2 separate regions of the Homo sapiens genome follow, and region 1 is linked to region 2. Evidence: fine-mapped expression QTL. Tissue or cell type: unexposed skin. Region 2 holds a variant in brackets; the other region holds the start of a gene. All regions are shown on one strand. Distances are between the middles of the regions.

Region 1 (8,302 bases), 280 kb before region 2:
ACCCTGGTAACTTCTCTTAACATCTGTGTGACCTTAGACAAATTTCTTGGCCTCTTTGAGCATTGATTTTACCTTTGAATAATAGGGGTAGTAACCCTCTCTTCTACAAAATTGGGTTGTTGAAAAGATTCCAGTAAAGGAAGGAATGCACAAACACCTCATAAATGGTAAAATGCTCTCCAGAGGTTAAAGAATAAGAAGCTCTCGTCTTCCTGAGAAGAGGTGCAAGTAGTATCTTGAAAATTCAAATAAGCCCAAAGTGGTGGCAAGTTGTCCATCCTACTCTATGGAATTCTTCAAGCTCCAGTCCAGGAAATAAGTAGCTGGGAGCTTTAAGTCCAGTGGAGGGACCCAGGAATGCACTGGCAACCATCATGACATCTCTGTTTTCACTGATGATGGTGAGGACAAGACTAATAATGACCAGAATAAGAAGGGCTAAAAATTACTGAGCGCTTCTTATGTGCCAAGTCTAGGATGAAGGGCTTTGCAGGCATTATCTCATGGAGTCCTCATACAACAAGCATGGCCATAAGCACTGTTATTATCCTCATTTTATGGCTGAGGAAACAGGTCCAAGGGGTCACATAGCTAGCAAGGGGCAGAGCTGGGACAACCCAGACAGCACTTTATCTATCTGTAAGAGTTTTCTCTGTCACCTCTTCACTGAGCTTCCCTTGGCCTGACGACATTCTATTAGCCTCAGAGGCATTGAGGATCCTCTTGATTGGTTTTGATTGCTGCTGTAACAAATTACTGCAAATTTAGTTGCTGAAAACAACACACAGGTATTATCTTATAGTTCTGCAGGTCAGACTGGCATAGGTGTCACTAGGCTAATATCAGGCTGTTGACAGGGCTGTATTCCTTCTGGAGGCTCTAGGGAAAAATCTATTTTCTTACCTTTCCCAGCTGCTAGAAGCTGCTTATATTCCTTGGCTTCTGTCACCTTCTTACATTTTCAAAATGCCTCACTCCAGCCTCTGCTTCTGCTGATAAATCTCCCCTCTCTGACGTTGACCCTTTTGCCTCCCTCTTGTAAGGACCTTTGTGGTTACAGTGAGTCCACCTGCATAATCCAGGAAAATCTCCCTATTTCAAGATCCCTGACTTAATCACATCTTCAAAGTTCCTTTTGCTGTGTACGGTGATATATTCACAGGTTCTGGGGATTGAAATGTGGACATCTATGCACAGGAGGGGTGGGCATTATTCTGTACACTATTCAGACTTTACATCAGGGCAACAGTGAGCAGTGGGAATAAGACAAATAGAAAAATTCCCTTTCCAGTGTTAAACTCCAGAATCAGCCTGCAGTGGGTGAGAGCAACACTGTGCAAAGGCCCTCATGGAGGCAGTTCCCAGGCCACAGTCCAGCACAGAGAAGCAAAGGGAGGTCAGGGACAAATGTTTTCAGGGCTCCCAAATCTGTCCAGGGCTGGCGGTGTTCAGATGACCTAAGGGGCATGTCTAGTTTTGCTCACCATCAAAACCTGAGGTTGTTATGCAACCTCATGCTCACTGAGTGCTGGCAGATTATGATGACTTCTTTCAGGAGTTTTCCTACAGGAAGACAATGTACCTGCCAACATTGACACTCAGGTTTCTCTTTGTAAGTTGATGTCATCACAGTCTCTTGTGAGTTAGGTGCAGTGAATCAGTCTCCACAGGATTAATCAGCTCAGGGACATGGACTAAGGAACTTAGCCATGCTAAGGCTAAGAGTTGGACTTCTGGGCTAGGGAACAGTCATCCAGATAGTGCCATCCTGGGGAGGGTTCTTGGGGGTCTGCCAGCTGGCCTATCCCTGGCAATGCCAGACACTGCCTGTCCAACACAGGTAATCAATCCCTGGTTATTTAGTAGAGGTAATGATCACTTCCAATTTTTTCATATGTGCAATTCAGGCTGTGATTCCCCATATTTATTACTATTTTCACTCCAAATTCAATAGCCATGTTTAACAAGCAAATTATATAAAATAAATCTTGCTGGAAAAAATCACAGTAAGAAATAAAATACTATTCAAGAGGCAGAGTGCTATGATGGAGAGAGGGCAGATAGCAGGTTTTGAATTCCATCTCTGCTCCCAACTCTCCATGTGATCCAGGGAAAGCCTTTTTCCATCTCTAAGTCTCAGGTTCCTTTTCTGTCAAACAAGGGGCATGATCTAAATCAGCAATTATCAATCCCAGTGGTGCAGCAGAGCCACTTGATGGACGTCTGGAGAATGTCAAAGCCTAGATCTCACCGGGGTTGAGAACCACCGGCTCTGAATGATGGCCAAGGTCCTTTCCACAACTATTCTATCATCCCATGAAATGTCTAGAATTTGTTAATGAAAATCTGGGTTTGGATTTGTTTGAGGCATTCATCTTGCTTGCTGAATAGTAAATTCAACTGAACAAGGAAATGAAAACTGAGCACCTGCTGCCTACAAGGCACTAAATTAGACCCCTTAGGGATTCCTGCACTAAAGACCTTACCATGTGGTCAGATAGGTGGGTCGTGTGCCCAAACAATTATAACTAAAAGGGGATGGACATTGTTCCTTTTAGAATTCACCAAACCCATGTTTTAAATGGGTAATTCCTTTAATTTTACTGGGATTCCCTTTCCAGAAATTCAGAGCCTGTGTTCTACCTTCTTGCTTATACTTCTCCACAAGGAGGGCAGAGACAGATCCGACGCCCCAACCCTGTGGTCTTTATCTAGGCCTGCCCTGAGTGCTGGAATTTAGAAGTGACACAGCATCAGTTTTCATTTTAAACATTTATTGAATGCTTACTATATGCCGGGCACTTTTACAAGAGTTTTAGGTATGTTAACTCAATTTAATGGCCCCATGAGATAAACACTACTTTTTTGACCATTTCACAGGCGAGGACAGTGAGGTGGAAAGCTCATATCACTTGTTCAAAGTCACACCACTGGTAAGTGGGGAGTTGGGATTCAAACCCAGAGACTGGATTTAGAACTCACGCTCCCAGCCGGGCACGGTGGCTCACACTTGTAATCCCAGCACTTTGGGAGGCCGAGGTGGGTGGATCACGAGGTCAGGAGATCAAGACCATCCTGGCTAACACAGTGAAACCCCGTCTCTACTAAAAATACAAAAAGTTAGCCGGGCGTGCGTGGTGGCAGGTGCCTGTAGTCCCAGCTACTTGGGAGGCTGAGGCAGAAGAATGGCGTGTATCCAGGTGGCAGAGCTTGCAGTGAGCAGAGATCGATCGCACCACTGCACTCGAGCCTGGGTGACAGAGCAAGACTCAGTCTCAAAAAAAAAAAAAAAGAACTCACGCTCCCAACCACTTATAAATAGATTCTGTGCCCTTCATGAAATGTTCTTATGGCTACCAAAAATAATGCTTCCAAACAACGAATAACATGGGAAATGTTGATGTTAAAATGTTAAGTGAAAAGTTAGTAAAGTAAACTCATGTAAGTACTATGAGAAAGACTATGTAAAATACAAACAAAACTCAAATAACAACAACAACAACAAAACCACTATATATAGAAAAAAATGACGGGAAGGAAAATAGCAAAATAGTAACCATATTTTAGGGATGGGATTATAGGTGATTTTAAAATTCTTCCTATTTTTTGGTGTTTTTAAATAATGAGTATGCTTTCTTTATAATCTCATTCCCTAGTGACAAGCAAATACTCTTAATATTTTGCTGTAAGAAAACATCGAGTCTAAGTTCTGATATCATAAAAATTAGTTTTGGTTTCAAAATTGGCAGGTCAGTAATTTGAAATTTAGCATATATTTTCTCATGGAAATAAGGATAGCCATAGTGATTAGTTTTTTCTTTTTTAAACTTGCAGTTCTAGGAACTGTGCTAAGAACTTCATCTGTATTTCTTTATTCAGTGGATTAGGAATGTTTTCAGCCCCCTTTTCCAGTGATGGTTAAGTAACTTGCCAGAGGTTGCACAGGTGGAGAGAGCAAGGGTGGGAACTGATGCTGGATGTCCCTCTCCAGGGTCTGTGTTATAACTGGGCTGATGCTTCTCACTGCAGCCCATTTCAAAGAGCATGGAGCTAAGGTACTGCCTTTTTCTCCCAGTCTTATTTTCTCTCACTGCAGCTTTCATTGTGAATATGCCATATTTTGGCCACCCTTTCCAGCTAAGTCAATTTTGATAACTATCCTGGGGACCCAACTTTCCCTCAGAATATTGTTTGCTGAGAAAATGTTTTGGATCCCACCATGGGCTTTTAAAACCTATATACTCCTCCTCTTCACCTCTCCATCCAAAGATTAATCTTCTCCTGAGGTCCTTCCCAGGTTGGATGCTCTTCTCTTATGAATGACCAGAACTGGTGCCTCACTTCTGGAAACCTCCAGATGAGTGGAGAGCTTTTGCTCCACCCTCAGTATACACCTGGTCTTTGCTGCCTCACCTCGAGCTGGCCAAGGGCACCTTCTTTAACACGAGTAAATAAGCCATTCCTAGACTTCTGCCCTTTTAAAGGCATTGTTAGTGCTGAATCGGTACTGTTTGTGAGCAGTTTTGGAGCATCAAATTCAGGCAAGGAGAGAAGCCCAACCACCCACACTGTCAGCATTAGATCTGCCTAAAATAACATCACTGAGATATCAAACCTTCCTTGTTCTGGTTATGGCATCATCTAGAAATGAAAAAAAAATCATGTTAGATTATTTGCTTGGGCCTACAATTTTATTTTGGATCTCTATTATTATTCTAAAAAGGGCCATTTAATTTCCATCTTGGGAATTTTCTCCTTCAGTTCCTATACCAAAGAGAAAACAGAACTTCTGTTCATTCCAGAGGTGTAGAGCCGTATTGGCCCAGCTCAGAAAATAGAAGGCATAGCAGAGCTGCCTGTGAGATAGATAGGTGCCATGTGCAATTCACAGAGCTCCCTCACCATCCTAGAGGCCTGCAGTTCTCAGGGGATCTTCCTGTGGGTTAATACTTGAGATGCTTATGCAGGGAGGAACTGGGTCCCTGGGATGCGAGGGGAGGGAGTCACCCATGCCTTTATGAAAGATGCTTCTAGCGTCCCGCACATGGTCTGCACCTCCTGATGCTAGGTCAGGACTGAATTGTATAAAAGGCAGAAGCTTCTGACAGCACCTCAGTCTACCTGTCTCCTGAGTGATCTGCTGCAGTGCCTGAACCAGGTAGAGTGCTTCTCAGGACCAGGATGAACTCTTGGTGCTGGTGTTTTGGGCAGAAAGAGCCCCTGGGTGGAGGTTGAGGCCATTCTTGAAGAAAGACAAGGATAAAGAAGGATTTTGGAGGGGAAGGTTCTTCTGGAAGGGGAGGGTGGAAGGTAGGTAAAAGGAATGAAGGACTGATGCCTTTCTGAAGTTCCAAGTTATTCATTTGAAAATATGGAGTTACTAGGTGGAAATCATTTGTATCATTCTTGTTACTGGTCTTGGGAGACTGGGTTTTTAAAATCTGGTTCATCTTAGGCCAGGAGTAGTGGCTCATGCCTGTAATCCCAGCACTTTGGGAGGCTGAGGTGGGCGGGTCAAGAGGTCAGGAGTTCGAGACTGACCAACATGCTGAAATCCCGTCTCTACTAAAAACACAAAAATTAGCTGGGTGTGGTGGTGCACACCTGTCTGAGGCAGGAGAATCACTTGAATCCGGGAGGTGGAGGTTGCAGTGAGCCGAGATAGCACCACTGCACTCCAGCCTGAGTGACAGAGTGAGACTCCATCCCAAATAATAATAATAATCATAATAATAAATTCTGGTCATCTTAGAGATAAAATCTTGTGAAATTATAGTTCAATTTTAAGGGCAAGGAAGTGACCTTGGGCTTGTATTGTCTTTCAGCTTTATTCAGCTTCTACAGAGATGTCCTGCCAGCAGAGCCAGCAGCAGTGCCAGCCTCCTCCCAAATGTACCCCTAAATGCCCTCCCAAGTGTACTCCTAAGTGTCCTCCCAAGTGTCCCCCAAAATGCCCTCCCCAGTGTTCAGCCCCATGCCCACCTCCAGTCTCTTCCTGCTGTGGTTCCAGCTCTGGGGGCTGCTGCAGCTCTGAGGGTGGTGGCTGCTGCCTGAGCCACCACAGGCCCCGCCAGTCCCTCCGACGCCGACCTCAGAGTTCCAGCTGCTGTGGCAGTGGCAGTGGCCAGCAGTCTGGGGGCTCCAGCTGCTGCCACAGCTCTGGGGGCTCTGGCTGCTGCCACAGCTCTGGAGGCTGCTGCTGACCTGGGCCATGAGGAGCACGGAGGAGAAGGACTGGCAGATCCCAGGTGCTGAAGATGTGTGTCAGCCTGAGGCTTCTTTTCTCTCATTTCCCATGGAAGGACTTCGGAAATGCCTTAAGTTCCCCTCTTTATCCTGCCCATGTTCACTCCATTGTAGGGTTGAAGTCTAGCTTGTGATATTTTCTGGCCTGGCTTTCCCTCTCAGACATAGCTCTTTGGAGAACTAGGTGTTGTAATTCAGTTATGAAGCTATTTTCTCTGTAACAATAAAGCTTTTTATTCCTGATATCACTGCCTCCTGATTTCATTGTTTGCCTCTCCCACTCCCTACCTGCTGCATCAAGCCATCTTCCCTTCCCTTCTCTTAAATGCAAGCGAACACTTTACAAACTTGTTTAGGAAGCACATTTTGGCAGTGAAGCTACTTAGGCCTCTGGAAAACAATATTTCCTTCTATGCACTGGATTCTGGAACTTTAAGCTTGAAGGAAAGAATAATGTCTGAGACCATTACGCCAGACACAAGATTGTATGAGGAGAGCCAGGAATGGGTTTGAAGAGAAGAGGATGGTTGTACTCAAAAGGTTCAGGTTCTGAGAGGGTTTCCTTCAAGCATGGGTCACAGTTTGAAAAATTGCTTGTCCCCATTCATGGGGAATAAGATTGCCTGAAGTGCTCATCCTGGGCTCTAATAAATGGACACTCTTTACTTTTCTGATTATTATAAGCTCAGGTGTTTCCATCAGTTGGCTAGAGGGAGAGCTGGGTGGGCAGTGAGTGAGTTTTGGAGGCAGATATGAAACGTCTGAGCACATTTTCCCTGCATGCTGAAATCCTGGATTTGAATCTGGGTAAAGAACTGAGAAAGACACCCTTCTTTGCAAAGACTGTCTCTATGTGGTTGGGACGTACGTGTGTGTGTGTGTGTGTGTGTGTGTGTGTGTGTGTGCAGTGAGAGGTATAAGAGTACAGGGGTTTTGGTCCCTGTGTTGGGTTTTCCAAGCAACATTTCTTTAGGAATGGGCTGGTTCCTTCAGGAGACACTCATAATGTACCTAGAAAAGATAACTAGAAAAGTTAATTCCAAATCAGCCTTTAATATAAAAGATAAACAATTGATGCCTCCTTTGATAAGAGTTAATAGCGATAAATAAAGTAAGCTGGTTTATGAGATCATAGGATGCCCACAGAATGAGTAGGCACTTGCCCAGATTATCTCCTTATACTGATTCCTACCAAACGTTCTTCATTCTTTTTTTTTTTTTTTAAAAGAACTTTGCCCATTTTCCCAGAGGAGATCCTGCCTCTGTCTTGTTATTTCATTACTTCCTTCTCTGTTCTAATATTGACTTTACTTTTTGGAATGTCTCACCTATACTCACCAACAGGTGCTCTAGGAACTGGCAACCTGTTAATCAGGCTCTAAATCCATGTTAAATGAAACTGGTATCTTTTGTGACTTATCTTTCCTCGCCTAGTCCCTTGAGCCACTCCCAGCTCACTCGCCCCCAAACCTGTCTCTCATCCTTAATTCCTGAATTCTTAGTCTTGGACTTCTGTTATAGTTCACATTCACAGTTGTGGGCAATTTGATTAAGAAGCAGTTCTGAAGTTGACTGCCAAAGTATCCTCCAATTCTTAAAAATTAGTTATTCTGAAAACACTATCTATCATGAACACTTTGGACCTTTGGAAAGAACTTTCTTTCTTTCTTTCTCTTTTTTTTCTTCTTTCCCTCCCTCCCTTCTTCCTTTCCCATTTTCTTTTGCACTGGGCAGTGGCCCTAGGGAGAACTTATCTTCAAAGGCAGATTGGTGGTTGGGGGTGGGATAAGAAGCAGGAGTCCCACAGGCTGACTAGCCTTTTTGCAATTGGGCCACTGTCCTGCACACATTTTTCTCTTTGTCATACCATGCTGTATTATGGGGATATGGCAACCTGACTACATTCACAACTTTTCTGGTCTTATGGTTCCTTAACTTTGCCTAGGTTTTTCTTCCTGTCTCCAGTGACAGAGAGAAATCACCCCTGGGGTTCCCAAAGGTGCATCCCCGTCATCATCTTCACTCACTGCATCTTGAAGCATATGGATGAAACCCA
Region 2 (8,236 bases):
GGACACACCAAACCTGAGACTCACCATGCCCACCCATCAGCCTGAGCAGGTGGTAAGCTGAGGAAATCTGAGCTCCAGCCTAAGATCAGGAGGCCAGGGTTCAAATTCCAGGGCTGCAGGAATTTATGGGTTTGTCTGTCTCTGCTTCAACAAAGTAAGTTTACTGAGCCAGTAATATCCAAGATCTTTTGTAGTATGGATATTGCAGAGTAAAACTACCTTGCAAGTTACAAAAGGTAGTGATTACTTTTTCTCTTTAAGAAATAATTTTCCCTAAATGACCTATAAATCATATAATTTCAGGGTGTGAAGACATATTTGGAATAATTTCCTCCTTCACTTATAACACTTTGGACTGTCAGATGCATTTTGTAATATTGTTTGGTCTTAGTTTACAATTTTGTGTAGCAGATAACACACAAGGGTATCCTGAGCTTGCAAAGAGATGATGAGAGAATTTGGGGAAAGTATTGGAAGTGAAACTACTGGACATGATGTTTCCATAATTACAAGTCATGCTAAGAGTGTCAGAGGGGCAGAGGTGGCCTCTGCCTAGGTCTGATTTTCTGTCTGACTCTCCCTCAGCTCCTAAGTACCTACTGCCGAGATGTCCTGCCAGCAGAGCCAGCAGCAGTGCCAGCCCCCTCCCAAGTGCACTCCCAAGTGCCCTCCCAAGTGTCCCACCCCCAAATGCCCTCCAAAGTGTCCCCCTAAGTGCCCTCCAGTCTCTTCCTGCTGCAGTGTCAGCTCCGGAGGCTGCTGTGGCTCCAGCTCTGGGGGCAGCTGTGGCTCCAGCTCTGGGGGCTGCTGCAGCTCTGGGGGAGGTGGCTGCTGCCTGAGCCACCACAGGCACCACAGGTCCCACCGTCACAGACCCCAGAGCTCTGACTGCTGCAGCCAGCCCTCAGGGGGCTCCAGCTGCTGTGGAGGGGGCAGCGGCCAGCACTCTGGAGGCTGCTGCTGAAGTGGACCTTGACTTCCTCTTCCTTCTGATTCTGCCTGAATAGCTGAGAGGTTCCAGCAAAAGCTTGAAGTCTTGCCTGGAGAATCCCTCTGCTCTGGTGTCAGGAAACCCAAAATCTTTCTCCTTAATGGCATTTAGAGACTTTCTTCTGCAGATCCATGGCTGCCCTGGGAACTCCAAAGCACACACCTACTTCCTCCCCAGCTCACGCTGCTGTATTCTGTGCTGCCTGAACTGAAGAAATAAAATCCAGAATCTGCCCCCCAACTTGCTACCAGCCTGCTTGATTTTCCTGTTTGTGTCATCCTTGTTCTGCTCCCCTGTGTCTGCTGGTGGCTGCTGAGGCCTTGGTGGACAGAGGATGGGGAAAGGGGTCAGGAGGAAAAAGCTTGCATTTCTGTGTGTTTTGTGTTTTTTCTTCTTTCGGTGTTTTCCTTTTAAACCAAGGGACTGAAATAGCATTGAGAAATATTTTTCTTTCAAATTCTGGTTCCTTTCACCTATGTAACCGCATCCCTCAGGCATGGCCAGGAGGCCGACTTCATCCTCCTTCCCACTATCACCTCTTCATTCTTGTGTTCCTCGTTCCCCACTCCTTCCACTAACAATCTCCCTGGACTCCTCCTCCATACTGTATGTGCATGCATTCACACACACATATGTACATGCACATAGATGAGATGAATCTGCATTGTAAAAAAATTAAATCACATTTAGTGCTGTATAATTTGCATGCAATAAAATTCAATAAAATTAAATGTAAAATTAAATGAGTTTTGTCAAATATTTATAGCTGCATAACTATAATTGCAATAACACACCAAAAATGTAGTTAATTTATTGAGAAGATTTTCAAAATAACACAAAATCTAGAATACATAAATGAAAATGTGGATACAGTTAACCACATTAAAATGAAATTCTAAGTATCAGATAGTACCACTAAAAGCAAGGAAGGGTAAAAAATTAACTTGGGAAAATTATAATATATGTGATAGGGAGATGACTCATATTGGTAAGAAACATAGAGTTCATAAAAACTGAGTAAATAAATGTTCCTATAAAAGTTTTGGCAGAATTCATATTTCATTCACAAATAATTAATGAAGAAAACCAATAACTTCTGAAATTAGATTTTAAAAGCAATTTAATCTCATTAATAAAAAGAGCATAGCTCATCTTTTGGGGATGAGAACTCATTATTGGTTCACAAGCTTTCTGTGAGCATTTTAGCTTACAAAACATTGTTGTTGAAGCTATGTGGAAATGATCACTTACTCTTTGTAATTTAGAATGCTAACTGGCATAACAATTCATGCAACAGATTTATTTGGTGATTAATTTATTCATTTACCAATACTTATTGGATTTCTAGTATTAGGCAAATGAGGCAAAATATAATAATAAAAAATAGATATTTAAGAGTGTTCACTGCTGAAGTGACATCAGATGATGACATAAGATGGTAAATAAGGAACCTCCAGGCTCTAGCTCACTTCAGAGACATTGGACAATGATATAAAGACAAAAACAGCTTTCCGAAAACTTTAAAAACAAAGTAAGAAGCTTCAGCAACAAAGCAAAGTTTTAATAAAGAAAGTAACCATACTCAAATGGCAGGAAATTTTGTGGTGCTTTTGCTCACCCCTACCCCATCCCATCTTACGCATAATGTGGTGTGGTCAGAGGAGGCTGCGCAATTTCTCAGCCTTTCTTACAGATGGAAGGAAAAGAGTGGAACTTGCATGCAAGATTGTGGGTTGTGTGAGGACTGTGTGAGGAACTGGTTTTTGTCTCACCTGAGTTTAGAGCACCAATGAGTCAGTGGCATATTCTGGATATTCGGTTGAAGGCTGCTGAAAGCAGAGGCTGCACTGTGGCATGAAACAGCTGCAAGGGGACTGCAGACTTGCAAGTGCCTAAAGACAAGAGATTAGCAGCAGAGGAAAATCATAGGCAAAGTCTCCAAGAAGAAGCAAGAGTAAGACTCTGAAAAATGTAGACATTTAAAAGCAGTCAGGGAACTGAAACAAAAGTGTCTGTGCACACACACAAACACAAACACAAGCACGAACACTTGCTCAGGGAAGGTGCATCCCCAGAAAAGGTTTGAGAGGACTCTTGAGCCTTCACACTACACTGAAGGTTTTCCACAGCACAGAGCCAGCTCCCAAAGATGGAGAGACATGGCTGTTTTTGCAAACATCTAATTTTCAACAAAAAAGAAACACAAGGCATGTAAAGAGACAGAGGATTGACCTATTTACAGAAACAAAATATATCTCTAGAAACTGACTTTAAAGAAACACAAGCCACTGAATTCCTTGAAGAAGCTTTAAAACAATTGTCTTAAATGCTCAAAGAATTAAAGGAGAACACACAGAGACAACTAATAAAATTAAGAAAATTATGTATTAACAAATAAAAATATCAACAGATAGAAATTATTTTTACAAAAACTCACAAAGAAGTTCTGGGGCTGAAGAATACAATAACTTAATAGAAAAATTATTTAGAGAAGTTCAACAGCAGAGTCAAAGAGGCAGAAGAAAGAATCAGCAAATTTGAAGACAAGTTATTTGAAATTATTGAATTTGAGGAGGAAAATGAAAATAAAGCGAAAAAACCTGAGACTTATTAGACAAAATAGACTTTAACTCAAAGACTGTTACAAAAGACAAATAAGGACATTACATAATGATAAAAGGAATAATTTAACAAGAATATAGAACCATTATAAACACACATGTGC[C/T]TCAAATCAGAGCTCCAACATATACGAAGCAAATATTGACTGAGTTAAAGGGAGAAATGGAGAGGTCTTTAATAATAGTAAGAGACTTCATATTCCACTTTCAGTAATAGGTAGAACAACCATACAGAATATCAATAAGTATACAGAGGACATGGAATACACTATACATCAATTGGACCAAAAGACATATGCAGAACATTCCACCTGGGATTAGCAGAGTACACATTTATCTCAAATACACATGCAACATTCTCCCGGATAGGCCTCATACGGAAGCCCACAAAACAAGTCTTAATAAATGTTAAAATACTGAAACTAGACAAATATCTTTTTCCAACTACAATGGAATAAGACTAGAATTCAGTAGCAAAAGGAAAACTGGAAAATCCACAAATATGTGGAAATTAAACAACACACTCTTATACAACCAATGGGTCAGAGTAAAAATTACAAAGGAAGTTATAACATATCTTGAGAAAATGAAAATGAGAACACAGCATACCAAAATTTATGAGATGCAAAGAAAGCAGTGCTAGGAGAGGAATTTATACCTATAAACTCTTACATTAAAAAGAAAAAAAATCTCAAATCAGTAACCTAGTTTTACACCTTAAGACTTAAGAAACCAAAAGAAAATTAAAAAAATAAAACAAACAAACAAACAACAACAACAAAAAAAAAAACCGTCTGCATCAAAGCTAGTAGAAGGAATGAGGAAATAAAAAAAGATTAGGACAGAAATAAATGAAGTGAAAACTAGAAAAATCAATAGTGAAAATCAACAAAACCAAAAGTTTGTTCTTTGAGAAGACCACAAAAACTGATAAACTTTTCACTAGCTTGAAGAAGAAAAAAGAGAAGAATCAAAGAACTAAAATAAAAATGAGAGGGAAGGCATTACAACTAACTTATAGAAATAAAAAATTATAGGAGAATACCATGAACAATTGTATGCTAAATTGGATAACCTAGATGAAATGGATAGATCCCTAGAAACAAATCTGAAAAGACCTATAACTAGCAAAGATCAAAACTCTGCCAACAGAATAAAGTGCAGGACCAGACAGCTTCACTCATTAATTCTACCAAACATTTGAAGAGAAATCAACACAAATCTTACTCAATGCTTCCAAAAAATTGAAGAAATGAGGACATTTATGAATTCGTTCTCTGAGGCCAGCATTATCCTGATGCCAAAGCCAGAAAACTACATAACAATATCTCTGATGATATTGAGGGATGATAAAAATCCTCAACAGCATATCAAAAGGATTATACACCTTGACTAATTGTGAATTATTCCTCAAATAGCCAAACCAATGCTGAAGAAGAAAAATATAGTTAGAGTCACATACTTCCTGACTTTAAAACTTATCACAGACAGACATAGTGGTGCATACCTGTAGTCTCGGCCACTCAGGAGGCAGAGGATAGAGGATCCCTTGATCCCAGGAGTTCTAGACAAGCCTGAGCAACATAGTGAGACCTTGTCTCTAAAAAAAAATAAAAGTAAATTAACACAATTTATTACAACAAAGCAACCATAATGAAAATAATGTGTTATTGGCATAAAGATAGACATATAGGTCAATGAAATAGAATAGAAGAGTAGCAGAGAAACTTAAAATAAATAAACCTTCATATATATGGTCAAATTATTCTTTTTTTGTCCAAAAACAGGATCTTGCTATGTTGCCCAGGCAGGACTCAAACTCCTGGACTCAAGCAATCCTCCTGTCTCAGCCTCCCGAGTAGCTGGAGCTATAGGCACAAACTATCATGCCTAGCTGATTAAAATGATTCTTGATAAGGGTGCCAATACCACTCAATGGAGAAAGGACAATCTTTTCAACAGGTGGTGTTGGGAAATTTAGATATGCACATGCAAAAGCATGAAGCTGGACCCTCAGGTTACACCATACACAAAAATTAACTCATTAAGGATCAAAGACATAAACATAGAGTTAAAACTACAGGCTGGGCGTGGTGGCTAACCCCTGTAATCCCAGCACTTTGGGAAGCCAAGGCAGGCAGATCACAAGGTCAAGAGATAGAGACCAGGCTGGCCAACATGGTGAAACCCCATCTCTACTAAAAATACAAAAATTAGCTGTGTATGGTGGTGCATACCTGTAGTCCCAGCTACTTGGGAGGCTGAGGCAGGAGAATCGCTTGAACCCGGGAGGTGGAGGTTGCAGTGAGCCAAGATCATGCAACTGCACTCCAGCCTGCACGACAGAGCAAGACTCCATCTCAAAATAAATAAATAAATAAATAAACTACAAAATTTCTAAAAGGAAACATAGGAGGAAATCTTCATGACATTGGATTTGACAATGATTTCTTAACTATGATACCAAAAGCACAGGCAACAAATGTAAAAATAGATAAATTAGACTACATAAACATTAGAAATGTATGTGAATCAGTGAACAAAGTCAATACCATGAAAAGGAAATCTTTGTTATGGGAGCAAATATTAGCAAATCGTGTATCTGGTAGTGGGTTGCTATACAAAATATGTAAAGAACCCCCACAATTAAACAACAAGTAAACAAACAACCTTATTAAAAATGGAAAAAAAAACTTGAATAGACACTTATCCAAAAGAAATTTACAAATAGCCAAAAGACACATGAAAGTATGCTCAACACCATTCATAATTAGATTAAATTATTTAAAGTAAAACCCACAGTAAGATATCACTTCAAACCCGAGAGAATGACTACTATAAAAAATAAAGCAAAACAAAACAGAAAATAACAAGTGTTGGTGAGGATGTGGAGGAATTAGAACCCTTGTGCACTGTTGGTGAGCATATAAAATGGTATAATTACTATGAAAAAGAGCATGGTGATTCCTCAAAAAGTTAATAGAATTAACATAGGGTCCAGCAATTCCACTTGTGGGTATATACAATACAAAAAGATTGAAAGTAGAGTCTTGACAGGGTACTTGTACACCCACGTTCATAGCTTTATTATTCACAATAGCTAAAAGGTGGAAGCAATCCAAGCATTCACTGCTGGATGATTATAGAAGCAAAAGGAGGCATACACATACAATGTGATATTATATGGCCTTAAAAAGGTAAGAAATTTATGCACATGCTACAATATGAATGAATCCTAAAGATATGCTAAATCAAATAAGCCAGTCACAAAAAGACAAACACTGTATGATTCCACTTATGTGAGATATGGGGTGTAGTCCATTTCATAGAAAAAGAAAGTAAAATGGTGATTGCCAGGGGCTGGGGAGAGGGAGTAAGAGAGAACTGTTGTTTAATGAGCGTAGAGTTTCAGTGTTGCAAGAAGACAAAAATTCTAGAGATTGGCTACACAACGATGTGATGCTATTTAACATTACTAAACTGTGCACTAAAAAAATGATTAAGACAGTAAATTTTGGATTATGTATTTTACCAATTTTTTTAGGAAAGTATTCACTGCAAAAATTTAGGAGAGTTCAACACAGTTGCAGTATATCAATATATTAACAATCATAACAACAACAGCAATAAAAATATTTTTAAAATATACTATTTAAATAGAATAGAATTTTCTTCTAGACTTTAATAGTATTTTCTCATCACTGTAATTGTTTAAAGGGTTGTAGATATGGAAAGAACAAAACAAAGATTACTAACTTAACTTGTTACTGGTTATAGAACACATACAAAAAATTATTCCATTTGAATTATTTCTGGTTAGATCGCAATAGTATTCACTCACATCCCATGAGACGGTGAATTTTTGACTACCTAAAAGAGAAAAACCTTGACAAATAGGAAATTTCAGAAAGTCAGTGCTTTGCTGGACAAGATATCTTATTTGACCTAATAGCTAAGCCATGATATCTCATAGCCAAGATTCAAGTTCCAATCTTCCTAATACAACTATGTTGCTGACTCAACACCTACATCTGAGTTATGTCAGTTGAGAGCTTGGGTGTTGCCCTGCATGAAGACAGAGGCATGGACCAGATGGTATCCCAGCCCTATCATCCTAGATACCAGGAGTTGAACTTCTGAGTAGACCTGCCATTGTGACGACCTGGGAACCAATGTCCTGACCACTCCCCCATTACTAAGCCCTTTGGAACAATCTGAGCAGGAGAACAAATGTCATACCCAGGAGGGATGGTGTCAGACCTCTCAGGGTGATGTGGCCCACACACCTCACTGAGCCTGTCTCAGAGTGTGTCTCCTATGAGGGTGGCCTGAGTCATAAGGAATAGCTGTTTATAAACTGTAAATCAATGCTAATACCAATGAGAGCATTTAAAAGTCATTAAATATCCATTGTGCACATAGCTCTGTGTTGAAAAACGGAGGTAAGAAGTATGAAACACCCAAGGCAGGCCATCAAAGCATTTACTGTTATCTCATTAGAGTGATATGCCACATGAAGGATAAATAAAAAAGTGGGATTGAGCCACACTGTCCTGGAAGGGTAGAGGCCACGGCATGCACTGCAGGGAGAAGCATAATCAAAGTACAGAATATAATCCAGTTCAGT

Alleles and levels. Positions count from the first base shown, and alleles are read on the strand shown. Sizes are in standard deviations (SD) of each study's normalised expression.
As copies of C replace T in region 2, the expression in unexposed skin of the gene that starts at base 5,115 in region 1 goes down (moderate effect, 0.67 SD a copy in GTEx).

What was found. PIP is the estimated chance that this variant, and not a neighbour inherited with it, causes the effect.
Region 1: LCE5A starts here. The variant in region 2 is fine-mapped to the expression of LCE5A in unexposed skin (GTEx, PIP 0.92).

What each region holds. Positions count from the first base shown.
Region 1 is chr1:152,505,689-152,513,990 of GRCh38, forward strand. LCE5A (late cornified envelope 5A) reads left to right here and starts at 5,115. Exons shown (of 2, transcript NM_178438.5): 1 at 5,115-5,310; 2 at 5,826-6,489. The coding sequence starts at 5,847. The coding sequence ends at 6,203.
Region 2 is chr1:152,786,693-152,794,928 of GRCh38, forward strand. LCE1E (late cornified envelope 1E) reads left to right here. Exons shown (of 2, transcript NM_178353.2): 2 at 586-1,734. The coding sequence starts at 608. The coding sequence ends at 964. Among named protein-coding and RNA genes, the nearest start is that of LCE1E, 4.6 kb to the left of the region's middle. The variant C/T (reference allele first, on the strand shown) is at 3,717.